7 linked regions of the Homo sapiens genome follow. The protein of the gene in region 7 purifies or fractionates together with the protein of the main gene of each other region. This does not show direct contact. Each region holds a gene or a part of one and is shown on either strand. Other genes may lie near its edges.

Region 1 (3,257 bases), on a different chromosome or scaffold from region 7:
GCAAAGGGAGAAAATGAAGGCCAAACAGAAGCAGGCTCCAGCTTCTGCAAAAACTTGGATTCACAAATGTCCCTGAACAGAAAATGAAGCTCACTTCAGAACACACACTCTCTGCCTTGAAAACTAAAGAGACTATTACTTCCTTTTCACATGACCACAAGTCCTCTGATGGAAATGTACAGCAGAAACTCTTGAGAGAGAGGCTAAAAGCAACTCTGTTCTCCCCCTTCCCCTAGACTTTTCTTACGAAAAGTCAATAATTAAGCAAATTGCTTAACACTTGGTTCCAGTTCCTGCCTATCTGGAGTTTAAATGCGTAATACACCATTAATTTCCACGCTGCAGTTTTTATTTTAAAGAAAGTAACAAGATGTCTTTACACTGACACTGAAAATTCATCCATTTTAGAGCCAGGAATTCCCATGTTACACAGGAAAAAATAGAAGTCTACTGAATTAATTTTTTAAAAGAAAAGAGATCAGATTAAATATTTCTTTGTTTTTCCTTTTGGAAACTTTTATGTATAATTCTTTCTGCCTGCCTACTTTTCTGCAAAAATGAGATGTACAGATTTCGGTTCCCTGCTATGAAAAGTGATGTGGTAGCAATTTTATAAATGTTGCTTTCTGATTTTTATCAGAGTGAGAAAATTAAAATTATTGATTTGCAAGTAGTAAACAGTTCATATTTTGATTTCCCCTCATTTTAGTTTAATATAATTTGCAATAAATGTACATATTGTTGTTTGTTTCATAAAGCATATCACTTTAAAATGGTTTTTACTCCTGTGATTATGTTGGAATATTTGGAATTTTAAAGGAGTAAAGACTGTCCAGCATTTGGTTTTATAATGTTTGTCACCAGATTTTTATTAATGTAAAAAAAATCAATTTTTAAAAAATAGTTGGACTTTGGCAGCTTTTAAGGAAAGTTGGAGGTGTTTTAGGATTGCTATCAATTTTCAGCATTGTGCTATTTGGAAATAAGTGTTTTGCTTTTGTCTGATGGTCTGGGCTCATTTTTATGTTTATTTTAGAAAACTGTTGCATCAATATATTATGTTTCTTGGCATTGTTCAGCATAGGTAATGTGTGCACTTTATGTGTACACATAATCATATTTAAGTTTTTTGCATAAAATAAATGCTTCTAGATGTCATGGCAGTCTTTTTAATCTTTTTATCATATGCTTTCTTGTGAATTTTTTCATGTTAAAGAGCTAAAGTCATAACATGATTACAGTCAACTCTCCATTATCTATATAAAATAGTGACTAAGCCTCAGGTTTTTAATTTTGTGATAACAAAATAACGAAGGCATGTAAGACCTGATTCTGGAGGAACATGAAATTTGTCTTTTCTCATGTCCAGAGTTCTATCCTGCCCCCACTGTCCACTGTAGGGTCATCCGCAAAGCCCTAGCAGAATGTGCTCACTCCATTTCCTTACACGTTTCTAGCATGGGTCAGAGGAAACAACATTTGTGTTATAACTTCGTCTTGATAGGCTGTAGTGTACATGGGATGTAAAACAAACAAGTGTATCAAAGGTGGATGATTCTGTTAGAGTGAAGTTTGAGAGTAAATGTCACTTACGTTTCTCATAGATAATCAAGAGTTGGCTGTGTATTGACTGAAAGATGGGTAATTATTTTAAATATGCATTTACACACATTTAGGTATCAGAAGATGCTTAGGGAACAATGGATACCAATGATAGAAAATGATACCTTTACAGGGGCAGAAAAATCCCCACTCTTCCTTATTGCCTCTTCAGAACCCTTTAGAAAGTATAAAATATTGCCTCCAACATGCTGAAAAAGAGTATCTATGCATAAGTATCAGAGAAGTCCCTCAAGCAATCAGTAGGTGTGTTCTATTTAGAGAGAGTTTAAAGTTCTCTTAGCATCAGACAACTTGATTCCTAAGGTTTCCAGTGTGTCACCAACAAAAAGTGCATTGATAGGGACCTTTGTCTCTTCCTCCCTTTGATTAATTGCCCGGCATCACAGTTTACTAGATTACCAAGTGTTACATCATATTAAATAAAATGTAGCAGAACCATCTGCATCAATATATTCCTGTTTAGATTTTTGCAGGAGAGAAGTTAAAAGGATTTGCTCCTTGTATGATGTAAGTGGCCCACCCCAATTTTGTAACATGATGCAAGTGTCTGGCACTAAGGGAAGCAAGAGTAGGGTTGTGGAAAGACCAAGCTGATGGGGAGGGACTTGTTTACGGGAATTTTTTTAGTTTTCCTTTTCAAAGGAAAACATTAAAATCCCTTAGGAATTTGGTATTCACATCTCAGAGAACTACAACACAAAAGTGCAGACTTATATTTGAGAATTAATGTTAACCCTTTGTGTCTAGTTTGAAGCTTCTTGTATTTGTCTAAAACAACAAGCCAGAATTTTGTATCTCCTTTGATAAAAAGTGTGTATAATGTAAAGTAGTTTTGCATATTCTTGTGCTGCACATGGGCTGAATTTTTAAATTTTTTTTAAAAACTTGAAGCAGAACCTTGTAATTTGTGTAAATGACAAGTGTAAAATCCTACCATAAAATGCTAAAAATATGCACTGTTTCAAATAAAACCAAGAAATGCAGCATTATATAGTAGTGTGGAGCCCTGAATATTCATGTACCCCTGGTATGTCACAAGTTGATAAAATGTCTCTGCATATTTTCTGTTGAGATGCTGGAGTCTGAATATCCTAATTAGAAATCAAAAGCCACCTTCAAACTTCCTGGCTGGGTACTCTGAGGTAGCTTACAGTGGCTAAGGAAGAACATAGTGGATGATAAATTCTGAGGCACATTCGGAATTTCCAAACGAGGTTTGTTTTAGGGGGTGGCTTTTTTTTTGAAATGAGATCTTACCCTGTTGCCCAGGCTGGAGTGCAATGACATGATCATGGCTCACTGTAGCAATCCTCCTGCCCCAGGCTCCTAGAAAAGTGCTGGGATTACAGGCCTGAGCCACCAGACCTGGCCAAGAAGTTATTTTTTTAACCTAAGAATTTAATAGCAGCCTTTGATTCATATTAGTCTATGGTTCATCCATTCATTGCAAGTTCTGCACTCACATATTTAGTTCCATAACAAATTCAAGAGAGCAAGCAGATTACATAAATGTATCTGGAGTAAGAGGTGACCAGAACGAGAGGTAAGAAAGTCTATCATGGCTGGGCGCAGTGAGTCACACCTTTAATCCCAGCACTTTGGGAGGGTGGCCGAGGCAGGTAGGTCACTTGACC
Region 2 (4,417 bases), on a different chromosome or scaffold from region 7:
TTATTAACATTAGTCTTTTGAGCAGTTTTTTCCATTGTAAGTACTTTCTAAAAAATCATTTTCACACATTTCTCAGATACATCAATCCTTTCAGCATTCCTCCATGCACACATTATGGTACCCCAGCTCTAAATATAAAAGACTTTTATTATGTCCATTAACCATGGACATATGTGCTCCAAAAGTTTCCTGACACGCAGTCATTTGTGGTTTTTTAATTATAAACAGAAAATATTCACTAGAAAAATAAAACAGCAGCCTATAAATATATCTTTATACATTTGAGTTTTGTTTGTATATGACAAAAGATTGGATAAAGGAAGTGAGCATGCATGTGTTTATATACACACAGAGACACACATACATTCACATGTGCTATTAAATCCATGCACTGTACAGGACTCATATATCTGTAATTGCAGGTACCACTGTCTTGTTTCTAAAATAAGGGTACAAATTTTCCTAAGACTCACCAGGTCTCTCTCTGCATGAAAAATTAAGTGGGAAAGCAGATAATGCCCAGTAAAATAACTGACAAACAAAGTCATATTTATTGAATGCGTTTATTTTAACAACCAAAAAATTCTAACAGCCTAACAATGCACATAAGTTAAAAATTAATTATCACTTAGTGATAACAAAGATAGTTGATTTACATGGAAAAAAGAACATTTACAATATGTTAATCCTTATTCACATTGTTGATACCGCAATAAAACACAATTTGTTTTTTTCATTTCACAAAAAAAAAAAAAGGCGGGAAATTGTGCTTTGTCAAGAGGCACTACAAGAGAAAGTTTCTTCTTCCAAATAGATATTATATGACAGATATTGAATAAATAGACATATATGCATTGTAATTCGCAAAGATCTGGCAAGACCACAGGCTAAAATGCCCACAGATTCACTTAGAACCACTGCAAACTTGGCAGTGAAATTAAAAAATAAAAGGCAAGACTTAGCATTGAAAAATACCTAATAAATTTTTGGTTGAAGTGTAAAAGATACCAAATGCGGATGCCATCGATAGATGAACCACCTTGTAAGAGCTTGGCAAAATCAGTTTCCATTACGTGTACAGAGTGACCTTCAGCAACAGTGTAAGAAGACAATTTGGAAAGAGTAACTCGGAGATCAGGAAGCAGCAACCATGGACTTTCTGATTAAAGCTGCAGCATACTACAGAAATAGGAAGGATGGGGCCAGGGCTAACTGCAAACAACCATCCTTTTGCAAAGGTATATGACGCTTATGTCAAGATAATTTTTAAACATCATTATTTGAAAAAGTACAGGAAAATGTCCCTTTAAAAACTCCAGAGGTTACTGAGCAGCTAGAATTAGCTTGTATTGCAACATGTCTTCTCCCTGTATATTGTAAGTTCTGAGTTAATATCTACACATAGAGGTTTTTTTTTTAACTCCTACCTTTTATACCTTTCAAATATATAAATAGTATTAACAGTTATATTACAATGTTTGTGTAGTAAACAGAAAATAACTTTCAAAGTGATATTGCATGAGGTCTTTGACAAGGTTTTGTGAAAGCACAACTCAAAAAAAAAAAAAAAATCCAACCATGTGGGACTGTTTAATGGCCAGTTTAAAGCATGGATTACGTTCACTAGGCCAGTCCTGAATGTGAGGTCTCCTCTTGCAATTACTGTAAGTAGAAGTGGAAAGTAATGCTTCTGGTGTTTCTCATAGGAAGCCGAAAGAGATCTGGAGTACTATAGTAGATTGCAGCTTTAATGCTCATCCCATTAAACATCCAGTCAGCATTAGTTCTGCTTTACATAAGGTAATTGCGATGTAGGTAACTGGGATAATGTTTTCTTTTAGGATGAGTAAGTGATTCTACTGAAATCGCTTCACATACTCTATTGCCTGGAGCTGCACAACGATTCAAAAACAGTTCTTGTTAGGGCTGTCATCCCAGGAAAAGGGACAGGAGAGATCAGGGACTGAAAATGTTTGATTAGGTAGATGGAATGTGTACGAAGAAGAGGAAGCCCAAAGTGAAGCAGAAATCAGAAATGTCTTTTGGGAGAGGGAAGGATGGAGATTTATTTGAGAGGGAGCCCCTTTAACTGGGCAGCAACTTCTTTTCTAACTTAATATTACACTGAACTATTTTCTAGTAAAAAACAAAAAGACAAAAAAACAGCAACAACAAACAACTTTTAAACGAGCAGGCTTATTAATTTTCAGATTTGAAGCCACAAGCAGGTAAATAAATTTCACAACAAAATGTGGCTCATACTATGAATTCCATATGTCCAATGTCAAAATGTCATTTGATCAAGACTTGCACTAGTGGACAAAGTTTTCTCTGCACTGAATTTCAGTTTTACTTATTTGGAATTCCACAGAAATGCATCTGTTCACTACAGTAATGACAAATTGAATAACGGAACGTAGCAAGTCATTTTATTGAGTCATTTTAAGTGTGCATTGTGTCTTTAAGATTTATTTGACTTGTATCATTTTAATGTGCCCTGATTGTTTTCACTTCACTTTTTTTTTTTTCGGCAGTGTCGTTTATTTTGTTAAATACATACCTCAAAAATTACCCATTAAGCTGCCAGATAGGAAGCCATAGAATTAAAAAAAAAAAATCAGGGACAAACACAAAAAATAAATAGGAATTCAAAAATAGTCACCCCACCCTGAGAGCAGGCCGCAGTTTATCAAAAAGCCAAAGCGACTCACTGTGAAGTGGTTTTTTTAATACATAAACAAGTCTTTTCTTTAAGAACTCATTTCACAGTCTATTCTTTCGGATTGCAAAGTCTCTGTCCCATGCAATTTTAATATATATATGTAAATATAGAGATATATACATATACATATACACACACACTTGTAGCTTCCTTCATTTATTTCATAGTTCTTTTCATCCTGGTACTTGCCTGATGTAACTTCCGTTAAGTGCAAGGATAATGAAGGCAGAGTCTCCTGTGATTATAATGACTATGATCCAGTCATAGAGACGGGATAAAGTGTAACGCTTTAGTGTCTTTGCCAAGGCGATGTCTGATTCGGAAATACTGAACTTATTCAGTCTATAGGTGTATCCTGTGCAACAAAGAAATGTCCAAAAGGGTAAGAAAAACAAAACAGACATAAAAAGACAAAAATAAAGCCAAAAAAACCCAAAAACAAAAACAAAAAACAAACTAACAAAAAACTTTTAAAGAAATGAAAGCAGAAAATCCTTGGACCGATGTATTGCTTTGCCTAGTAGAAGTTCACATTATCTCTGGTCAATTTCGGCAGGTGCTGCCTTGCTTTTGTCAGCATTTTCCTCCTCAGCCTCCACTTTGTACATCTCCTCGGAGCCTTCCTCGCTGTCGTTCTCCTCTGACTCGGTCAGCAGCTCCTCGTCCTTATATTCAGCCACGTCCACCGCGGAGCCCAGGTGCTCTTTCAGCTTCCCGTGGTGCTTCACGTGGTACCGCTGGTTCTGGAAGAACTTGATGATGGTGTGTTTGGGGAGATCCAGCTGAGCCGAAAGAGTGTGGATGGCTTCCTGGTCTGGGTACAGGCCTACATCATGAATAAAGCTTTGGAGGATCCCCAGGGCTTCTAAGGAGATCTTTGTGCGAGACCGGGGCTTTTTGGCACAACTGTCTTCAGTCGGAGGAGGTGGGGGAGGCGCTTCTTCTCTGGGAGGGGAACTCTCCTTGGCTGGCTGAGACTGCTGTCTATGAAGTACCTGATAATTAAGAGAGAAAAAAATGAACACTGGACTCATGATTTTACCTTTCCAAAACCATCAGCCCTCTGAAATATGTGTTATCTATCTAGCACTGGAGGTAAGCTATAGTCATTTGTAAAGTCAGGTCTTTGGAAAGCTTAAAAGCATTTCTGGACATTTAGTATCTCACCTACAAAACAGGAGGTTCATAACAGTAGTATTTGCCATCATTTATATTCTGAGATGCAAAGTCAAGTCATTTATTGCCTAAGGTCATCTCACTTTAGGCAACCTGGCTTCAGAGTCTTCTATACCTGTAACCACCAAGATATGCCACCTCTCTGAAGGCTAACGACAAAGAAATTGGGCACAAAGGGGAAAGTATGGACTCTATCATCATGGCTTCAAGTTCATATTCTTCCACTTAGCTGAGTAACCCTGGGCAAATCACTTAATATCTTTCAGCCTCTATTTCATCATCCATAAAAGTAGGATAAGAAACCAACCTCCTAGAGATGTTGTAAGGATTAAATGACATAATTGTTACAAAAAACAGTGCTTGTCTTAAATCAGGGATTGGCAAACTTTGTCAGGAAAGGGCAAGATAGTAAATATTTGAGGCTCTGGAGGGTCGATCTTTGCCACAACTACTCAATTCTATTCTATTGCAAAAACAAATGAACATGGCTATGTTCCAATAAGACTAAATTTGGCCCAT
Region 3 (3,982 bases), on a different chromosome or scaffold from region 7:
TTCAGAGCTGGGTACAGATCCTGGAAAAGCAAAGAAAGACAAAATAATCATTCCTGCTTTGACAGGTCAATGGCATTCTCATGTTTTCACCCTCCAACCTGTGGCTTGTAGGTTCCTTGTCTTATAATTCTATAATCAATATGGAAATACATTCTCATAAAAGAATCAATGATACCGAAGTACATGGGATGGAAACCAAGTTGTCCCTTTAATCACCTTCTCCCCACTAACTAGTCCCCAGTCAAAAGGGGTTTGGGGCATGAGAAGCCTGTGGGATCCACACAGAGGCAACATCCTTTTGGGTGGTTCAGAGCAGGCACCTAGGAGGTAAAACTCCCCAGGAAGGTGAACTCAGATAGAAATTATGAATCACATGAAAAAGTTCCACACCATTAAAGACAGTAAATAGCCAATACACAGGCATATTCCTTCCTGTGAAACTTGACACAATACAGCAACCTGAAAGGGATTTTTAAAACAGGTCTGTTTGATTTACTGCTAAAAGGAACAAGAGCTCCTGAGAGAAATGGCTGATTGCAGATCTGGGACAGGAAACACACAAGAGGAACCAGGCACACCTTGTACCAGAGAGTGAGGATGCTAGCTAGCTAAGACTACCGGGGTCACGTTAAAAGCACTCAAGGGCCAACCTGAAGAGGTTCCCACTGGGCAAAGAAGGGACAGCTTGACCACAAGCAAGAATAAAAATTCAGGTAAATAAAGGGAAAGAATCAAATATTTATTCTGCATTAAGGTATAAAGACTGGAGCTACTAAATGAAGACTAATAGCATGTCATCATTTTGTCAAACCTTAATTAAGTAATATGATCTAAGTATGATTCATGTTTGTCACCAAAAGACAATTATGACAATTATGTGCCAATTAATATTTTGCCACAATTTCCTCTCTCTACATACAATCACATGATTTTTTTTTTGAAACCAGTCAAGTAAGTTGCAGACATCATGCTGCCTCTAAACGCTTCACAGGTATCTCCTAAGAACAAAAGCATTCTCCTAAATAACCATAAAACAATGATCACACTCAAGAAACTTAACAGATATGATGTTCTTATCCAATAATTAGTCTATATTCAAATTCCCCCAATTGTCCCAGTAATGTCTTTTATAGCCTTTTGTTTTGGGGTCCAGGATCCAATTGCGCATGACATGTAGTATTTAGTCCTCAGGTCTCTTCCATCTCTTTTAATCTGAGACAAATTCCCGTCTTTTCTGTCTTATTTTAATGCTGCCATTTTTCAAGGGTTTGGGTTATTTTATAGACTGTCCTTCAGTTTGGATTAGTCTGTTTCCTCAAGATTAGATTCAGGCTTAATGGTTTTGGCAAGAATACCACATCAGTGGTGGTGTGTCCTTCTCAGGGAATTACCTCAGGAGGTGCAAGTCTGTCCCACTTTTGGTGATATTAAGTTGGAGCACGTGGTGATGATGATGGCTGCCAGATTCCGGCCATCAAAAAGGTACCTTTTCCTTTGCAATTGATAAGTAATCTGTAGCATGTTAATTCTACCAATTAACCTCAGCATTTATTGATAGTCCTTGCCTGGAACAATAATCAATGTACTGGGTATAAAATGGTGACATTCTAAGTCTAGCCTTTTAATTCATGGCCTTTACATTTATTAGTTGGCATTCCTCTGTAGAGCTTCCCCTTCTCCCTGACCCCAATTGTTATTTTCAGTATTTCTATGGACCCATGGATTCTTTTTTATTTTATTTTTTTGAGACATTGTCTCGCTCTGTCGGCAAGGCTGGAGTGCAGTGGCATGATCTCAGCTCACTGCAACCTCTGCCTCCCGGGCTCAAGCGATTCTCCCGAGTAGCTGGGATTACAGGCGTATGCCACCATGCCCGGCTAATTTTTTTGTATTTTAGTAGAGATGGGGTTTCACCATGTTGGCAAGGCTGGTCTCGAACTTCTGACCTCAGGTGATCCACCTGTCTTGGCCTCCCAAAGTGCTGGCATTGCAGGCGCTAGCCCTGCACCCAGCCCACGGATTCTTTTTGAAATCAAAATGCATTGTCATCCACTACTGTTATGTTTTGAGAGGCTCAAAATGCTCAAAATGTCCCAAATTTGGCCAGGGGAAGCCCTTCAAGTTGGCTCTTGTATCTTCTTGGCAGGTCCCCATTCATTTTGTGCTAAGAAAATGTCCCAGACTCATTTTGTACTGCCCTTGCCCTAGGGTCCTAGAATGAGCAATTTTCCCAAGAAGCCCTAGTTCTTTTTATGGGAAATGGTATATAGAAACCCAAATCTGAGCACTAGGCATGCTTATTACTATTGGAGTATCAGAAGTAATAATACCCCAGAGGGAAAAACTGAACCAGAGTCCGATCAAGTCTTTAGTCCAGTAGAAACATAATAAAAGTCACAGTGACTTTAAAGTTTATAGTAATGACATTAAAAAGTAAAAAGAAAAAGGTGAAATTAACTTTAATGAGACAGTTACATTCCTTTTTTCTGTAGGTAGTTTTTGAAATCTGGTGTGGACTTCACACTTACAGTGCTTCTCAATTCTGACTTGCCACATTTTAAGTGCCCAATAGTTGCACGTGGCTAATGGCTGCCTTAATGGACAGCGCCATCCCAGATCTACCAGTATACAGAAAATACTGGAGGACAGAAGGGCATGTTAAACGCAATGGGGATGTAATCGGCAAAACCCAGACTGTGGGAAATACTACAGCACCATAAACATGGTTTCTACTAAACATCAGTTATTCAATAAATAGACTGAAGTTTAAAAAAATGAAGGGAATCGTAAATTAAAAGAGAGCTAAATATTTCAACCAAATCCATAGTCTTGATCTTGCTTGGTTCCTTATTTGGAAAAACAATAATACAAAAACATTTATAAGACATTCAGGGATATCTGAACGCTGGCTAGATACTAAGGAACTACTGTCAATGTTTTTAAAAATAATCCTTATCTTTTAGAGACAAATACTGAAATATTTGCAGATAAAATGATATGATGTCTAGGATTGACTTCAACATAATCTGAGGAGGAATATAGGTGAAACACGATTGGCCATGAGCAGAGGCAGGGAGGAGGAAATCTCCTATGAAATAGTACAAAAAGAGAAAGAGAAGGAATGCAAGAAAGAGAGGATAAGAGACAGATGATACAATGAAAGACCACCATATGTCCAGCACGGCTTCTAGAAAGAGAGAAAAGAGAGAAAAGGGGTAGAGTTAATCTTTGAAGAATTTTCCAGAAATGAGGAAAGACATTCATCTTCAGATTGCACAGGCCTACCAGGTGTTAAGATTTAAAATCAAAACTAAAACTCAGGCCCAGATATATTCTCTATAGACTATAAATGATAAAAAATAAAATCCTAAAAACCATAAGAGGGAAAGCCAGACAACCTACAAACGAACAACGACCGGCTTGAGAGTAGACTTCCTGTCAGCAACAAAAGATGCACAAGACCGAGGTGACTTTAAAAGTGTCATGGGCCGGGCGCGGTGGCAACGGTGGCTCATGCCTGTAATCCGAGCACTTTGGGAGGCCGAGGCGGGTGGATCACTTGAGGTCAGGAGTTCAAGACTAGCCTGGCCAACATGGTGAAACCCTGTCTCTACTAAGAATATAAAAATTAGTCATGGGTGGTGGTGGGCGCCTGTAATCCCAGCTACTCGGGAGGCTGAGGCAGGAGAATTGCTTGAACCCAGGAGGTAGAGTTTGCAGTGAGTCAAGATCACGCCACTGCACTACAGCCTGGGCGACAGCGCAAGACTCCGTCTCAAAAAAAAAAAAAAAAGTGTTATGTAATACATATTGTGTGTATAAAACTATATAACTATATATACATAAACTTTATCTATATGTATGTATATCTGTCTCTCTCCTCTCTCTCTCTCTCTCTCTACTGACTATAAAAACACATTTTTAAAAAAAAAGAAATGGGGGGGGTCTTGTTATGTAGTCCAGGTTAGTCTTGAACTCCTGG
Region 4 (3,982 bases), on a different chromosome or scaffold from region 7:
GATCGTCAACTGGGCTTCCATGTCAATGGGTTTCTGACAGGGCCACCAAAGAATGTTCTGTTCCCCGGGCATGAAGTGACTTTCTGATTAATGTTGGCCATGATTTCCCCTACCTCACAGGGTTATCTTGACAGCAGTTTAGAAAAATGGCTTAAGTAGAGGACAATATTTAGTGGGCAAAAACTAATGTTAAGCCTTTATGTATTGACTCATGTACTCCTTTTCATAACTCCATGAGGACAGGTCCAGTTATAATTCCCTTTTTGTAGGTGAGCAAATGAAGATATCAGAGGAGATATGGGTTTTGCACACATTCAGCTAGTTACGTGCTGAGCCTGAAGTGCATGCCCTTAATCTCTATGCTGTTCGACCTCTCTGCTCACCACCCTGTGTCATGTATCCTTAGCTGTTTGACCACATTGCCGAATGCCTGGCTAACTTCATGGATAAGCTACAAATCAAAGACAAGAAGCTCCCACTGGGTTTTACCTTCTCGTTCCCCTGCCACCAGACTAAACTAGACGAGGTAAGATGGGCTCCTCAGACACTTGTTGCTTCACTCTTGGGGCTGGGAGGGCTGAGAGGGACTTCTGAGCCACCTGCTGTGGTGGTGGTGGTAGCACTGGAGGATTGTGGAGATGAAGTTCTGCCTTTCTGGGTGACTGTGTATGTCGATGGGGGGGCTGGTGAAGAAATCTGGGGGGTTGGGAGTGCCCTTTATCACCCTCTCTCCCACACACATTGCACAGTATCCTTATCCCCTCCACAGAAACAGGAATGAGAAATCAGGAACTCCCCAGTCTAAAGTGTTATGATAAAGACCCTTGGAAGAAAGATACTTGGAGAGTTAATGATGTAAGGACACAAGTACAGTCATGTATTGCATAACAATGGGGATATGTTCTGAGAAATGCTTTATTAGGTGATTTCACTTATGTATAAACATCATAGAGTGCACTTACACAAACCTAGATGGTATAGACTACTACACACCTAGGCTGTATGGGACAGCCTGTTAACTCCTAGGCCACAAATCTGTATAGCATGTTACTGTACTGAATGCTATAGGCAATTGTAACACAGTGATATCTGTGTATCTAACTAGGCAATAGGAACTTTTCAGCTCTATTATAATCTTGTTACCACCGCAGTATACACAATCTGTCACTGACTGAAACATTGTTATGCGGCACATGACTGTGTCTTATAGTGCCAGTTGTCCTGAGTTTCTTTTTCCTAGGCTAGCCAGGAAGTAACACACAAATTCAATCATGACTTTACCCCAGTGGCAGAGGTCTCTGCTAATGACGGAGGTTTGAGGGGTGTGGTGTGAGTTTCAGTTTTAGTGGGAAATCAATATTCACTTCTTGGTCCCTTTCCAGAGTTTCCTGGTCTCATGGACCAAGGGATTCAAGTCCAGTGGAGTGGAAGGCAGAGACGTTGTGGCTCTGATCCGGAAGGCCATCCAGAGGAGAGGGGTGAGTGGGGTGGCAGGAGCTTGGGGTCTGTGGGCTTTTCTGGGTCCACCCTGAAGACTCCCTGAGTGTCCTTGACTCATCATTGTTTGCTTACGTGGAGCTTAAGGAGAGTTCTCTTTTCCCTGACACATGTACTCAATAATTTTGTATGCGATCTGCTGCTTTGGGGGTTTTTAGATTATCAAATGGATAAATAATCTTAGCCTTGGCACAAGAAAAGCTCTTTAGTTCTTAACCTGAAGAAGACTTGAATGTGATTTCCAAGTAAGAAAGTTGGAATGATGTTGACATGGGAGTGGAATGGCTCAGAGAGAGAATGAATTAAAAGTCTTATCACAGGAGGAGTTATGGGGAGGGAGGGGGGAGAGAGAGAGAAGGAGGAGGAGGAGGAGGAGGAGTGATATATAGCTGGTGTTAGGAAAGTCGCCCTCTGTGATGATGAAGGTCAGAGCCCTCCCATTTGTCTCCACAGGACTTTGATATCGACATTGTGGCTGTGGTGAATGACACAGTTGGGACCATGATGACCTGTGGTTATGATGACCACAACTGTGAGATTGGTCTCATTGTGGGTGAGTGAACACCGTGCATGAAGGGCCCGTGCTGGCCAAGGGATGGGGGTGTGGGCTGGAAAGGGAGAAGGGGCCCATGGGCTGGGTGTTCCTTTGTAGTTCATATTAGAAGATAATGGTCCAGTCACTTTGGAGAGCCGAGCAGGGACTCATGGAGTTGGGGGTGGCAGAAGATTAGACCATGTATTGTGATGCCCCCAGAGTCTGCAGTGAGAAATCCCAGCCATCCTGGCCGGGCAGTCTCGGGACAGTAGTATAAGAGGGAAGAGGGGTGGGAAGGGGCCGGAGCAGGCGTGTGCATAGCCGTCCCTTGTTTTGGCAGGCACGGGCAGCAACGCCTGCTACATGGAAGAGATGCGCCACATCGACATGGTGGAAGGCGATGAGGGGCGGATGTGTATCAATATGGAGTGGGGGGCCTTCGGGGACGATGGCTCGCTCAACGACATTCGCACTGAGTTTGACCAGGAGATTGACATGGGCTCACTGAACCCGGGAAAGCAACTGTGAGTAGGCCCTTCCTGTGCGAGTGGGCTTGGCGGGGGCCTGGAGCTGAGTCTGGGGCTGGTCGGGGCCAGGGGGTTGTTTCTTTACAGTCTTACATCCCCAAAGCTTGCCAAGGTGGCCACTGGTCATAGGAATGTCTGTGACTATAAATTGCTGAGAGGATCTAAAACAGAGAGCAAGCGGATATACCAGATTATAGCTAATAATGTGTTTCCTTCACAGGAGTCATTTTGGAAGGTTCTATTCTGAGTGTAAGTGGGTGGCCCTGCTCTTTCTTTCCACCTTCTATTTGTAAATTGTCCATGGGAACTGTGAGCCACCTAAGGAAAGTTGTGTTGAGGTGGCCAAGATTGGGGTCTCTGAAAGCTCCTTTCATAGCTCCAACTCCATCACCACCCAGAGGACAGGCTGACAGCTGGCTGCTCATTGCTGCTCCCTGGGGTCCCAGGGCCTCCTGCTGCAGCTGCAGGCAGACCCATGGCCCCTGGAGACATTGGCTGAGGAGCTTCCTTGGCCTCCTTCACTTGGACCTTGGCCCAACTATGTCCTGGGATGGATTGGAGGAGGGGCGTCTAGCATTTTGGATCCTGAATATTGTATTCTCCAGCCTGGCCTGCCTTTGTTTTTAGTTGCTTTTATCTCTTACAAAACCTTATTTCACCCTCACAAACATTTGCCAAATGTGCGTGTGAAAGATCTTGAAACAGGGATTGCTTCAAGGTCTGAAGCAGTTGCAAAATATTTTGAGCAATACAGATCATCTCTGGTCTTGTGACTGTTGTAGAAAAGCTTTTCGTGCAGATCTCTACTTGGACAGGAAAATTGAACCCTATAAATCAAGTCAGTGGTGGGTAACCCAGGAGAGTCCTTGCTTTCGTTTTTTTTTTTTTTTTTTTGAGACAGAGTCTCTCTCTGTTGCCCAGGCTGGTGTGCAATGGCGCAATCTTGGCTCACCGCAATCTCTGCCTCCCGGGTTCAAGCGATTCTCCTACCTCAGCTTCCTGAGTAGCTGGGATTACAGGCGCCTGCCACCACGCCCAGCTAATTTTTGTATTTTTATTAGAGACAGGGTTTCACCATGCTGGCCAGACTGGTCTCGAACTCCCGACCTCAGGCGGTCCGCCCTCCTCGGCCTCCCAAAGTGCTGGGATTACAGGCGTGAGCCACCGCGCCCGGCCTGAGAGTCCTTGCTTTGTCAAAGCATGGTTTATTTATCTAAGTCACAAGCTTGTTTCACATGTTGAAATGAGTCCTTTACTTGAAATTTCTGAGGATCATACTGGTTGTGTCTGCCATGGCTGATGAGAGGTTTATGAGCTGAAAAGTCACTCAGTGCCTGCCTCCATGAATGAGGCACACCCAAGTCATTCCGAGGAACTAAAGGCCCTTTCAAATGTCAAAAGACAAATTTGCCAGCCAGACCAT
Region 5 (4,467 bases), on a different chromosome or scaffold from region 7:
CGGTAGGAGGGAAAACGGAGGGGAGGCCAGATAACCCTAGATAGCCTGTGGAACTCCCAGATTGCCGGTCTTGGACCCCGTAAAGGAAGATGTAGGAAGGCCCCAAATCAGGATCTAGTCCGCGGAGTTGCCTATTTGAGGGGAGTAACAATGGGGATTGGGAGAGACTTTTATGCTGAATTTCTAAACTCCCAGCTGAATCACGACTAGAACAAGGATAGCACCTCCTGAAGAGCAAAGTTTAGATCTCGTGTATCAACTGAATGATTCTTGAATCCTTTCTTCCCTTGCATACGAGCTAAGTAGGATGTCTTTGCAGCAGGAAATAAAGGGGAGAGGGTACAGAAACCCGGGTCTGGGAAATGGAGAGACTGGGCCACATTCATGGAGCCAGGAGGGGGAAATCAATGAGCATCATCTGACTTTGCAAAGGCTTTGATCCTTGTCTCCTTCCCCACTTCCGAGACTTTCCCATTCTTTCCTGGAGGTATGGCAGGTTATACATGGATCCATTCACCTTTGCGGGAGTCTTTGGCCACTGAACATAGTTAAAGAGCCTTTATTCCAATGTCTTGAAAATAGATGAAAATATTAAACAGAAGTGGAGCTGTTTGGCTCTTTTTGCAAGCCAGCAACGAGGATTTGGGCTTCCTTAAGTTATATGTGTTTAAGACAGTAATTTTTAAAAGTCATTATAAGGACTTTGGGCTGCAGGAACTCTCCCTGCCATTCACCGGCTTAATGGACATTGTGCCTTCTTGGGCATTCCTGTCCAGCCCGCGTCCGGGAGATACTCATCTCCTGCAAAGGAAGTTGCCTCTTTCCCCAAAGAGCAAATTTTCAAAACATGTAAGTTACAACTTGCTTCCCAACACTCCACTAAAAAAAAAAAAAATGCTGTTTCCCTTCCTTCTTGCCTCCATCCTACATCCCCCCGCTCCCCACTCCCTGCACCTTGACTCCCTATTTCAGTATCAGTGTTTAATTCTACACTCGCCTTTGGTGCAGCCCACGGGGGCGGGGTAGTGGGAAGCAAGGAAAGATGGTCGCCCACCTCATTCCCAAAACATGTGCACTTTTGAGGCTTCTGATTGGAACACATTGTCCCCAGACATCACAGAGCCTTGTGCTGTGGCTTCTGCGATGTCTTTGGAATTTACTAAAAACAGATAGACTAAGACCCCTCCCCACTCCACAACAAGCAAAAACACACACAAGCGCGCGGGCGCGCACACACACAAACACACACACCCCCTCAGTACCCCCCACCCCCTTTTTAAGCAATGCTTTGTTGTGCTAAAACTAGTTGGACGAGTTAGGGTGTTACTGTTGCTCCCGAGGCCCTGGCCAATAGAACCAGATCCACCCCGCTGTGCGTAAGCGCGCAATTAAGGATTTAACCAAGGCTGTGCTGCGCCTCAGCCAGCAGTCAGCCGGCCGGAGACAGAGACTTCACGACTCCCAGTCTCCTCCTCGCCGCGGCCGCCGCCTCCTCCTTCTCTCCTCCTCCTCTTCCTCCTCCTCCCTCGCTCCCACAGCCATGTCTGCTTAGACCAGAGCAGCCCCACAGCCAACTAGGGCAGCTGCCGCCGCCACAACAGCAAGGACAGCCGCTGCCGCCGCCCGTGAGCGATGACAGGAGTGTTTGACAGAAGGGTCCCCAGCATCCGATCCGGCGACTTCCAAGCTCCGTTCCAGACGTCCGCAGCTATGCACCATCCGTCTCAGGAATCGCCAACTTTGCCCGAGTCTTCAGCTACCGATTCTGACTACTACAGCCCTACGGGGGGAGCCCCGCACGGCTACTGCTCTCCTACCTCGGCTTCCTATGGCAAAGCTCTCAACCCCTACCAGTATCAGTATCACGGCGTGAACGGCTCCGCCGGGAGCTACCCAGCCAAAGCTTATGCCGACTATAGCTACGCTAGCTCCTACCACCAGTACGGCGGCGCCTACAACCGCGTCCCAAGCGCCACCAACCAGCCAGGTACATGGACAGGGGGAAGGCTGGGCAGATACAGGGCGACTAGGACGCTGGGGGCGCGAGATGGGGTGGTAGATTGGGGGTCACAGCGGTTCACGGCAGTGGGGGCGCACGCGGCAGAAGGGAGTAGGACTCAGACCCTCCAACAAAGAGAGTTTCTCGGGCCAGCATTTTAGGGATTTTTAGTAGGAGAGCCCTGTGGAGGTTCGAACTAGCGTCTCTCCCCTCCGGCACCTTCCAAGGCCCTTCAGTCGCTGAATTCCCAGCTTGCCCGGCCAGGAAGCCGGCTAGGCTGGAAAGGGGATAGGGGTGGAGAGAAGAAAGAATCAAGCAGCTCCTGGCGTTTGCGTAACAAAGAGAAGGTTACTTGGGAATTTTGGTAAGCGTGCTGGGTTGGTGCGAGTGGGAATAGAAGGCTGCCTCAAAAACTCAGTCAGGATTAGTTTGAGAGCCGCCACAAGCTAGCACGGTGCGGGTGCCCTGAGCACGCTGGGTGGGGGTGGGGGGGTTAAGGAGTTGTAGCCAGCCAGAGAAGAGCGCGCCGAGAGTTTTGCGGTTTATCCAGGCATTTCCAAAAACAAAAAGCCATTTAAAGGTGGAGGAGGGTTGCTGAGGGGTCACGTTGTAGGATAGATTTTTTTTTCTGTCTCCATAGGCGCCCACAATTTGTCTTTCCGTCCTCCTTTTTCGTCCGCTTTGAAACTTACTTAGAGAGTTTAAGAGGGTTAGTGAGCTTGGGCGGTAAGAGAAAGGCATGAGGCTCGGCGGAGAGGTTTTATTGGTAAGGTTTGATCTCTTCCCACCAGCACATTAATAATCCTGCTAATATTAGCATCCCCTACTCTGGCAGAATTGAGACCACAGCCCTCATCCTCCACACTTCTCCCTGGAACTTGACACACACACACACACACACACACACACACACACACACCCTGGAGAGGTTCTCCGTCAGTTCCAGAGGGGTGGTAGTTTTGAGGAAGGGGAGTTGTAGCCCCAGGGCAGGTTTGTACAACACGCGTTTGGCAATCCCTCCCCCTCCCGCCCAAACCCATACTCATGACAGTGAGAATCTCATCCTGACCTGCCGCCCCTTTCCTACGAAAACACCCCACCACCGGTTCCTTCTCAGTGTGTGACTCTTGCTGAACTTTAAAAGAGAGCCCCGGGTTGAGGTGTCTACGTTTCTTTCACTCTCTCTGTATTCCGTGCATAAGTGGAAGATTTCTTTTTTTTTTTTTTTTTTTTGCCAAGAACATATTAAGTCTATTTGTAAAAGAAACCAGACACATCTGTGCCCTCGCAGATCTGCAGCGAGATTATGGGGGTTGCATAATCGACCCTCTGTCTGCGGCGGCCCCGACCGCTTGCTGCTGAAGTGAAGGAGCAGTTTGCTTGTGGGTCTTTGAACTTTGGAGACCTCGGTTAGCGTCTTCCCTGCCCAAGAGTCTGGCTTCTGCGGGCGCCCGAACAGACGCCGACAGAAGTAGGGTCACGGCCCAGGGCCACCTCCTTGAAGCCTGGGGAGGGGCTGGTGTTCTTGAAGCCTGGGGAGGGGCGGAAACGCGGAGGAGCACAGGGTGGGCGTAAAAACAAGTCCGGGAGAAGAAGCAACGACCGCAAGAGCTGAATCCCAGATGCCAAGGAGAAAGCAGTGTTGTAGGAAGCGCTTTGCACAAACTATCTGAATGAACAGAGTAGGAATTAATCAGAGGCTATCCCGCTTTTCCATATTTGGGGTAGGTGCATATTTATCGCGGTCCTGAAAAGCAAAGGTGGTGGTGATATGGGCAAAGAATGAAGACTGAGTGGTAAGAAACTCTAGGACTCTATTTGAGGCCCTTCCGCAAAAGGGGCATTGTCTGGTGACAAGCTTTAACTGAGTCTGTTTTGATTATTTAGAGAAAGAAGTGACCGAGCCCGAGGTGAGAATGGTGAATGGCAAACCAAAGAAAGTTCGTAAACCCAGGACTATTTATTCCAGCTTTCAGCTGGCCGCATTACAGAGAAGGTTTCAGAAGACTCAGTACCTCGCCTTGCCGGAACGCGCCGAGCTGGCCGCCTCGCTGGGATTGACACAAACACAGGTAAATACGGCGCTGCCATGCACTAGACCTGCCTGAGCTGCACGTCTGGTTGGGTCGCGCGGTTCAGTCTCGATGGGACTGGAGCTGTTTTGACAGTACCCGTGAGAAACTAACAGACCCAAAGACATCAGCCCCTATGCTTTAACTCGGTGAGTCAGGCCTTGAGACGGTGGGGATGGTATTCATCAGCGGTCTGGAGATACCTCCCACTAACCGCGCCCCCCGCCCCCACCCCGTAGCGGGCCTCCGGAGCTGTGGGGCCAATTTCGCGGGTTGAAAGCAAGCGGAGGGTTATTTCTAGGGCGGCCTAGGCAGCCCAGAGCAGCTATCTGGTTTTCTTAACAATGTAGAGCCTCCTCGGGGGTGAGCAAGGCCTGGTGTTCTCGCGGTGGTCTC
Region 6 (3,982 bases), on a different chromosome or scaffold from region 7:
TGGGTGGTGGGTTTCTGCTTCCCACCATCCAGCCTGTGAAAACTCACTCAGAGGCAGGATAAGAAGCAGCAGGCTGAGCAGGGTCAGAAGCAGGAGGTGGGAAGAAAAACTGAAAACATACCTTGGCATGAGGGGACTGCATTTTTTGATACATCTCCAAGGAATAGTGATGAAGCCACATTTCAACAAAAACCTGCAAAAAAGCATTAGCTAGTCAAACCATTCTTGACAATGGTGTCAGACCATCCAGTGGGGAAAGGACAGTGTCTCCAACAAGCAGAGCTGGGAACACAGAATACCCATGTGCAGAACAGTGAAGCTGGGCCCTTCCTTCACACCATCACCAAAAAATAACTCAAAATGGGTAAGCGACCTGAGGATAAGCACTAAAACCATACACTCTTAGAAGAAAACATGGGAGAAAACTTCATAACACTAGATTTGGCAATGATTAATTAGATATGATGCCCAAAGCACAGGCAACAAAAGGAAAAAAAATAGACAACTAGACTTCATCAAAATCAACACTCTTGAGCATGAAAAAATACTATAGATAGAGTAAAAAGGCAACCAACAGGCATGGTGGCTCAACCCTGTCATCCCAGCACTTTGGGAGGCCGAGGTGGGTGGGATTACCTGAGGCCAGGAGTTCCAGACCAGCCTGGCCAACATAATGAAAATCTGTCTCTACAAAAAATACAAAAATTAGCTGGGTGTGGTGAGGCATCACACCTATAATCCCAGCGACTTGGGAGTCTGAGGTGGGAGGATTGCTTGTGCCCAGGAGTTTGAGACTGCAGTGAGCCAAGACTGCACCACTGCACTCTAGCCTGGCAACAAAGACAGACTCTGATTTAAAAAAAAAAAAAAAAAAAAAAAAAAAAAGGGCTGGGCACAGTGGCTCACACCTGTAATCCCAACACTTTGGGAGGCCAAGGCAGGTGGATCACCTGAGGTCAGGAGTTCGAGACCAGCCTGACCCAACATGGAGAAACAGTGTCTCTACTAAAAATACAAAATTAGCCGGGCGTGGTGGCGCATGCCTGTAATTCCAGCTCAGCTACTCAGGAGGCTGAGGCAGGAGAATCGCTTGAACCCAACAGGCAGAGGTTGTGGTAAGCCAAAATCGTGCCACTCCACTCCAACCTGGGCAACAAGAACAAAACTCGGTCTCAAAAAAAAAACAAAAAAAAAACCCAGCAACTCAAGTGTCTACTGAGAGATGAATGAATAAACACAATGTGGTACATCCACACAATGGAACACTATTCAGCCCTAAAAAGCAAGGAAATTCTGACACATGCTGTAACATGGATTAATCTTTAGTCCATTATGCTAAGTGAAGCATGCTACTCACACACAAATAAGTACTATGTGCTACGCATACTCTGGGTATGAGATCTAGGAGTCAACTCCATAGAAACAGAGAGCAGAATAGTGGTTGCCAGGTGCTGGGTGGGGAATTGTTTAATGGTTTGATTTCCTTGTTTTTCATTAGAAGAGATGGGGTCTCACTATGCTGGCCAGGCTGGTCTTGAACTCCCGGCCTTGAGCAATCCTTTCCTGCTGGGCCTCCCAACGCACTAAGATTAGAGGTGTGAGGCCCCTGCGCCCGGGCTGGTTCAGTTTCAGTTTTGCAAGATGAAAAGCATTCTGGAGATTGCATGCACAACAACATGACTGTATTCAACACTACTGACTGTACACTTGGAAATAGTTAAGACAATAAGTTTCATGTTATATATATCTTATAATTAAATTTTTTTCTTAGTTAAAAAAACAAAAAGGGCCGGGCACGGTGGCTCACGCCTGTAATCCCAACACTTTGGGAGGCCAAAGCAAATGGATCACTTGATGTCAGGAGTTCGAGACATGGTGAAACCCCATCTCTACTAAAAATGCAAAAATTAGCTGAGCATGGCAGTGGGCACCTGTAATCCTAGCTACTCGGGGGGCTGAGGCGGGAGAATCACCTGAACCTGAGAGGTGAAGGTTGCACAGAGCCAAGATTGAGCCACTGCACTCCAGCCTGGACAACAGAGGGAGACTCCATCTCAAAAAAAAAAAAAAAAAAAAAAAAAATGCTTTGGCCCAGGGAACAGCAGAACCTTCCAGTTCTTCCCTATAAGCGCTGTGTCATGATCTTCTGCCCTCTTCATGGCCAGCACAGCCTACGGTCCACACAGCCAAGAGCCATCTGGGCATCATGGTCCCCTCTGTGAACAGGGGCAACGGTTCTTACCATTCCACCCTGCGAGGATGCTGTGAAATGGTATGGAGGCTTCAAAAAGTGCAGCACCCCAAATACTAGGAGTTACATATAAGATGGGAGATAGAATCCTATCTTATCTACATGCCAGGCTGTAAAGCAAGGCTGTGGCTACCAAGTCAGCCCCAGGATCCAGCGTCAGAAGCAGCACCTGCTGAATCTCTCTGTGTGCCTAGAAGACACAGCCAGGACCTGGGAGTTGGCCAGCACTCAGGAAGTGAGCCAGCCCATACCATCCTGACAGGCTGGAGCCCCTCTGGGCAGACAAGGAAATCTGTCACCTACTACTTGGATCCCCTGAATCAATGGAAGGCCTGTGGAGGCTGCACAGACCCCTCACCATTCAGTGTCATGGAAACCAAAAGACTCTGCAACAATTATATCACCACAGGCAAAACGAAACAACTTCCATGGACAGGGGATCCTGGGATGAAAAACGCCATCAATGACATTCAAGTTAAAAGGGTGGGCAGATTTACTTTCATGTTTTCTAAATGTCACAGCAGGAAAATATCAACAATTTAGAATCAGCCCCGGGCTGAGGGGCCGCCTCTGGGACTCTGCCCCACATAGTGGAAGGTGGCAACAGTTTCTTTTCTTTTTCTTTTTTTTTTTTTGAGATGGAGTCTAGTTCTGTCACCCAGGCTGGAGTGCAATGGCACGATCTCAGCTTACTGCAGCCTCCACCTCCTGGGTTCAAGCGATTCTCCCGCCTCAGCCTCCCGAGTAGCTGGGATTACAGGCGCCTGCCACCACGCCCAACTAATTTTTGTGTTTTTAGTAGAGACGTGGTTTCACCATGCTGGCCAGGTTGGTCCCAAACTCCTGACCTCAGGTCATCTGCCCACCTAGGCCTCGCAAAGTGCTGGGGATTATAGGCACGAGCCACCATGCCCAGCTGGCTGAACAGTTTCTTTTGACCAGCTCAACTCTCACCTGGAGCAGAGTTTCTGACCTCCAGATCTCGTGGGAGGCGGGGTCTGCATTCACAGACGTCTGATGAGAGATGTGTCGCTTTAGGAGGCTAGTGTGGTGGAGGCCATAGGAAGCAAAGGGTATGGCTGGTGTCCTGAGGGAGACACAGAAACAGGCCCGAGTTACAGGCTCCCGCTGTAACTCGCTCCCGCTGTAACAGGGGCAATCTGGATATCAAAATCAACGAGAGCAGGGACAGATTACAACTTGTTCAATAGCACAATGCACACCTCCCCCCAGCCCCCTGATCCACACTGATATACCTGAATAAATAAATAGCAAAGAGAGAAGTCTTCCTTACCACAGAGTGACCATTGACCCACAAATCAATGAAGGAGGGATGAAGTTAGAGAACCACCATTTAGTAACCGCCCTATTAATAGCTGATTTGGTCAAGAATCAACAGTGAGGTTGGGCATGGGGGTTCACACCTGTGAGCATGGGGGCTCACACCAGCACCTTGGGAGACCAAGGCAGGAGGATTTCTTGAGGCCAGGCATTTGAGATCAGCCTGGGCAACAAAATGAGAACCTATCTCCACAAAAACATTGAAACATAAAACAGCTGGGCCTGGTGGCATGTGCCTGTAGTCCTAGCTACTTAGAAGGCTGAGGAGGGAGAATGGCCTGGGCCCACGAGTTGAGGCTATAGTGACAAATGATCGTACCAACTTCACTCCACCCTGGGGTGACAGAGCAAGACCCTGTTTCTAAAAAATTAAGAAATTCCCAGCCTGGG
Region 7 (4,618 bases):
TATGAGTGTGGGTGTGGGTGTGAGTATGAGTGTGGGTGTGTGTGGGTGTGAGTGTGGTGTGAGTGTGGGTGTGAGTGTGAGTGTGGGTGTGAGTGTGAGTATGAGTGTGGGTGTGAGTGTGGGTGTCAGTGTGAGTGTGGGTGTGAGTGTGGGTGTCAGTGTGAGTGTGGGTGTGGTGTGAGTGTGGGTGTGAGTGTGAGTATGAGTGTGGGTGTGTGTGGGTGTGAGTGTGTGTGGGTGTGAGTGTGGGTGTGGGTGTGAGTGTGTGTGAGTGTGGGTGTGGGTGTGGGTGTGAGTGTGGGTGTGAGTGTGGGTGTGAGTGTGAGTGTGAGTGTGGGTGTGGGTGTGGGTGTGGGTGTGAGTGTGGGTGTGAGTGTGGGTGTGAGTGTGGGTGTGGGTGGCACAAACCTGGACCCTTGGGGAACTCCTGGGTGCTGGGCACCGCTCCTGTGGTCAGTGGTGGCGGGGCCCTGGGGAGTTGCCTTGTCCTAGAGGGGGGTCATCAAGGACCAGGGCTGAGTGACAGGGAAGGGAGCTGGTATCCCAAGGGCGCTTTCTGCCCACGCAGTGCTTCTCCCTCCCACCACCAGCAGTTCCAACCATTAGCAAGACCTTCCTTACACAGGACCCAATGCCAACTGTCTCAGATCCCCTCACTGCAGGCTCCTGGCCCACCTGGAGCCCACTGCAGCTGCTCCTGAGCTCTGTCCCCCAGCCCCTGCGGCAGCTTCCCTGAAGCAGAAGGGAAGGCCCTGAGCCAGGTGGGCCAAGCTGGGTGGAGGTGGAAAGGGCCCCCACCACCTGGGCCGCTCTGGCAGCCCACCTTCTTCCCATCTGCTCTAAGGCTCTTTGGAGTCAGCCAGCCTCCTTGGAAAACGCTGGAGCTGAGGGCCGACCCGCCGCCCCTTCAAGGCAAATCCCTCGAGAGCACAGGTTCTAGACGCCCAGGGCGGCTGGACTTAGAGGCAGAGCAGGGAGGTTCCGAAGGTCGCCTGGGTGAGGGGTGCACAGCAGAAGGGCCACCCACCCCAAAGCCCAAGAGCCGCTCAGCCCAGCTCCCTGCTGGCCGAGCCGCCCCCGGCTCTGCGCTTCCTCCCAGGGCACCAAGGCCTTCAACGCCAACACGTGGGGCTGTCACCAGGGGAAACCGGAGGCCTGAGCTCAGCACCTCTGGACCCGCACCCGGCTAGCCTCCAGCCTCCCTTCAAACTTCGGTCCCTTCCCGGCTGTAGAGGAGGTGACTGAGGCGGAAGCCGGCGGCCGCGGTCTGGTGGCCAGGGGCGAAGCCAGGGGAGGGGTTAAGGGTCTGGGGAGCGTGGGTGGCGACTGTCGGTGGCCGCCTCCCGAAAGAAAAGTCGCCCGCCAGGCCCCCGGGGAAGGTGCCAAGGCCGCCAGCCAGAGCGCTCATAGCAGAAGCGAAACCGGAGAAGCAGGTGGCGGCCTCGGGTGCGGATGGAGAGGGCGAGGCCTGCAGGTCCAGGCAAGCCGCGCTCGGGGGCTCCAGCGCTGGCGCCTCGGCCCCTCCCACGCTCCTGGCTCCCGAGCGCACGGCCGCGCTGGCTTCAGCTCTCCTCTTCCTCTTCCTTCGGAAGTTCCCGTTGTCAAACATCTTCTCGCAGTTGGGGTCCAGGGTCCAGTAATTGCCTTTACCTGCAGAAGAAGAAACAGCCCAGTTCAGAAGGTTCGAGCTTTGACGGGCCGTGGTGTGAGCCAGCGAGGAGGTCAGCTTCAGAAAGATCCCCTGCTGGCCCTTACAGAGGGTCTGAGTCCTCGCCCCCATTCCACCCTTGACGGGCACTCTGTACCCGATGGGCCTCCACAGCAGGACTGGGAAGAAAGTGACAATCCAGAAAGGAGGAGGAAGGGAGCCCTGGGAAAGGCCGAGCCCCGTTAAGGTGAAGGAAGGCCTGCGAGATGCTAATGGTGGGACTCCGCCAGCCGCTCTGCCAAGGACAGCGCAGACCACGCCAGGCCCCCAGGTAGGCTCCAGAGCTTTCCAAACGGGCATCCTATTTGTTTTGCCCATCCTTGGGGTAGGCGCTGTCTTCCCCATTTTACCAGGTAGGGCACTGAGGCCCAGGGAAGTTGAGTCACTCCCAAGGTCACCCAGCTTGCTGGCTCTCCCGCTTCTTCCTCCGAAGGAGCGCACAGAGATTGAGAGCCCCGGGACCGCCGCACTGTAAACGCGGGCCTGTGGTGGGCTCAGCCGCTGTCTGAGAACCTGTCCATGCCCAAGCACTTCTTCCCCTTCTCCCTCCTCCCCGGGTATCCCCAACCGCGCAGGGAGAAATTAGGTTGTCTAAGGTGCTCCCACCCCCGGAGTGCCCGCGGCCCGGCGGGAAGATGGGGAGTCCTGGACGGAGCGAGCCGGCGCGCCGCTGTTACCTGGGTCGTCCTCGTCGCGGGGCACCTTCTTGAAGCAGTCGTTGAGCGACAGGTTGTGGCGGATGGAGTTCTGCCAGCCCGCCTTGCTGCGCTTGTAGAAAGGGAAGTTACCAGCCACGTACTGGTAGATCTGGCTGAGCGTCAGCTTCCGCAGCGGCGCGCTCTGGATGGCCATGGCGATGAGCGCCGAGTAGGAGTAGGGCGGCCGCACCAGCCTCAGCAGCTCCTGCTGGCCGGAGAGGCTCAGCCAGGCGAGGTCGGCGCCCGCCAGGCCGCCCGGGGCGCCGAGGAGCGGGCCGGGAGCCCCGTAGCTCGGGGCCGCGTAGGGCGGCGCAGGCCCGGGACCCGAAGCGTAGGACTTGGGGCTGAGCGCTGGCGCGTTCACCCACAGGAGGGGGCCCCCGCCCACCGCGCCCAGATCCCCTGGCTCATAGCCCGGGGGGTGCGCGGTGGCCTGGGCCTGGCCGGGCGGGGCCGAGGAGGGGCCCAGGTCGTCGCAGTAGGTGGCCATGTCCAGCCGCGCCCGGGCCTGGGCCAGCGGTGCCGCACCGAAACTCACTGGCGACCCATCCAGCTTGGCCGCCAGCAGCGCCCGGGTGCGACCAGCCCGGCCCAGCCCTCCGCCCTTTAAACACCGTCGGGGCCAGAGCCCATGGAGAGTGACGGTGGCGAGCCCCTCCCCTGGCAGCCCTGGAGGAGCGAAATCCTTGTCCTCGCCCTGGTGTCAGTTTTCCGCCCCGCCCAGGCCTGACACGTCCTGGACCGGACGCCCCTCTGATTCCCCCTTCCTCCTTTGTGCGATCCGTCCCGAGTCCACAGTCGCTCGCGGTCTTGGTTGCAGGGACCCTAAGTCCGTAGCCTCGTCTGGCTTCACGGGCCCCGCAGCCCCGACTGCCCTGGACCGTACCACGACTCCTCAAGGCCCCCAGGGCTGTGGCTTGGGAGCCCCGTCCAATGCGCGGCCCCTTTGCTCGGCTCGGGACATCTCGCCCCAAAGAAACTCGCCTCGCCGGGGCCCCTGGGTTACCCGGGACTCGGGGCTAGGGATAGAGGGCGACTACACTGCGCAAGAGATCGCAATGAAGTCCGTAGATCTCCAGGCTGGAGCCGCAGAGCGAGGTGGCGAGGTGGAGAACGCGGGGCTGGGCCTGGACAGCGGCCCTGGGGTCGTCTGGAGTCCTCGCTCCCTCAACCCGGAAGGCAGCGGACTGACATCTGCGCCGAAGTCGCGCGTACCCCACGGAGGGTCGGGACCCTGGAAATTTCGAACGCCCCAGCAGTTCAGGGCAGTCATCGCTTTTCCCAAGCCGGGGAGTCCGGGGCCCCGCCAGGTTTCTCCGCGCTGTGACCTCGGGCGCGCAGAGCGGAGAGCGCCAAGCTCTCTGCTGGGTGTCGGAGGACGCGCCGAAAACAGGGACGTCTCTGCAGTGCGTCCGACACCAGCTCTCCAGTCCTGCTGCCGCCCGGGGTTGCTGCAGCCCGGGTTATCCCGGCCCCCCAAGCTGCCCGGCTTTCGGCCTCCCCTGCTCCCCGCGCTGTGGGGTGGCGGAGGATGGACCCAGGCTGACGCTGGGCTGGGTACCTGGAAAGAGGGCCCGCCTCCCGGACTCCGAGTCGGGCACCTGTGCGAAAGAGGCGAAAATTCAGGCCTGGTGCTCAAGGCTCAGAGATGAGGAGACCTCCCCATCCCCCCAGATTCCTGCCGGCGGTGTTGGCGCTGACCTCCTGGAAGCTGGCCTCGCCCTGGGTATTCCCCAGCGTTACGCGGGCCTGTGGATCTAATTTTAATTCATTTGTAAAACAAAAGGACCAACCCTTCCCGACTTTTGGCGGTGGAGGAGGCTTGTAGGTTGAGGCCAGCGGTTCGATCGAGGAAAGAGTTTGGGTTTGGGGATTAAAGGGCCCATTTGAGTCAGCGACTTACTGGTGGTGCAGCCCCTCGGCCTCCCAGATCGTAGTTCCAAATTTTATGTAAAACAACTAATTTATGGAACAATTTAACAAATGGCAGAAAGAAGTGAGAGTCCCTCTGTTGGGACGTTGGCCTCTCGCCTTAGAAGTGAAGCCCCTTCAGAAGTGGTGGGTGAACCGAAGGCATTTCCCAAGCAGTCAAGAGAAAAGAAATACCCCAAAATGGTTCTTTGAGGTCGGCTTTTCGGCTGGACTCTGCCCCCTTTTCCTTCCCCCTTTCCCAAAGATTTCTGATTTTTGTCAAAGGAATGCTAGTTGTGGG

The links.
Region 1: the proteins of FOXI2 (region 7) and PDS5A purify together in Homo sapiens (affinity purification with mass spectrometry; one large-scale study listed by BioGRID and IntAct). This does not show direct contact.
Region 2: the proteins of FOXI2 (region 7) and SATB2 purify together in Homo sapiens (affinity purification with mass spectrometry; one large-scale study listed by BioGRID and IntAct). This does not show direct contact.
Region 3: the proteins of FOXI2 (region 7) and NSDHL purify together in Homo sapiens (affinity purification with mass spectrometry; one large-scale study listed by BioGRID and IntAct). This does not show direct contact.
Region 4: the proteins of FOXI2 (region 7) and HK2 purify together in Homo sapiens (affinity purification with mass spectrometry; one large-scale study listed by BioGRID and IntAct). This does not show direct contact.
Region 5: the proteins of FOXI2 (region 7) and DLX5 purify together in Homo sapiens (affinity purification with mass spectrometry; one large-scale study listed by BioGRID and IntAct). This does not show direct contact.
Region 6: the proteins of FOXI2 (region 7) and SMPD4 purify together in Homo sapiens (affinity purification with mass spectrometry; one large-scale study listed by BioGRID and IntAct). This does not show direct contact.

What each region holds. Positions count from the first base shown.
Region 1 is NC_000004.12:39,822,218-39,825,474, reverse strand, and holds the end of PDS5A (sister chromatid cohesion protein PDS5 homolog A), read left to right. Parts: 3' UTR 1-2,612; downstream 2,613-3,257. UniProt on the Homo sapiens protein: Probable regulator of sister chromatid cohesion in mitosis which may stabilize cohesin complex association with chromatin. May couple sister chromatid cohesion during mitosis to DNA replication.
Region 2 is NC_000002.12:199,268,956-199,273,372, forward strand, and holds the end of SATB2 (DNA-binding protein SATB2), read right to left. Parts: intron 3,718-4,417; coding exon 3,256-3,717; 3' UTR 550-3,255; downstream 1-549. UniProt on the Homo sapiens protein: Binds to DNA, at nuclear matrix- or scaffold-associated regions. Thought to recognize the sugar-phosphate structure of double-stranded DNA.
Region 3 is NC_000023.11:152,854,808-152,858,789, reverse strand, and holds part of NSDHL (sterol-4-alpha-carboxylate 3-dehydrogenase, decarboxylating), read right to left. Parts: intron 21-3,982; coding exon 1-20. UniProt on the Homo sapiens protein: Catalyzes the NAD(P)(+)-dependent oxidative decarboxylation of the C4 methyl groups of 4-alpha-carboxysterols in post-squalene cholesterol biosynthesis. Also plays a role in the regulation of the endocytic trafficking of EGFR.
Region 4 is NC_000002.12:74,871,894-74,875,875, forward strand, and holds part of HK2 (hexokinase-2), read left to right. Parts: intron 1-406; coding exon 407-526; intron 527-1,382; coding exon 1,383-1,478; intron 1,479-1,950; coding exon 1,951-2,050; intron 2,051-2,372; coding exon 2,373-2,556; intron 2,557-3,982. UniProt on the Homo sapiens protein: Catalyzes the phosphorylation of hexose, such as D-glucose and D-fructose, to hexose 6-phosphate (D-glucose 6-phosphate and D-fructose 6-phosphate, respectively).
Region 5 is NC_000007.14:97,021,789-97,026,255, reverse strand, and holds the start of DLX5 (homeobox protein DLX-5), read left to right. Parts: upstream 1-1,424; 5' UTR 1,425-1,632; coding exon 1,633-1,987; intron 1,988-3,619; exon of another isoform or gene 3,620-3,795; intron 3,796-3,886; coding exon 3,887-4,071; intron 4,072-4,467. UniProt on the Homo sapiens protein: Transcriptional factor involved in bone development. Acts as an immediate early BMP-responsive transcriptional activator essential for osteoblast differentiation.
Region 6 is NC_000002.12:130,164,253-130,168,234, forward strand, and holds part of SMPD4 (sphingomyelin phosphodiesterase 4), read right to left. Parts: intron 3,339-3,982; coding exon 3,206-3,338; intron 194-3,205; coding exon 122-193; intron 1-121. UniProt on the Homo sapiens protein: Catalyzes the hydrolysis of membrane sphingomyelin to form phosphorylcholine and ceramide. It has a relevant role in the homeostasis of membrane sphingolipids, thereby influencing membrane integrity, and endoplasmic reticulum organization and function.
Region 7 is NC_000010.11:127,735,552-127,740,169, reverse strand, and holds the start of FOXI2 (forkhead box protein I2), read right to left. Parts: upstream 2,986-4,618; 5' UTR 2,897-2,985; coding exon 2,386-2,896; intron 1,651-2,385; coding exon 1,205-1,650; 3' UTR 1-1,204. UniProt on the Homo sapiens protein: Possible transcriptional activator.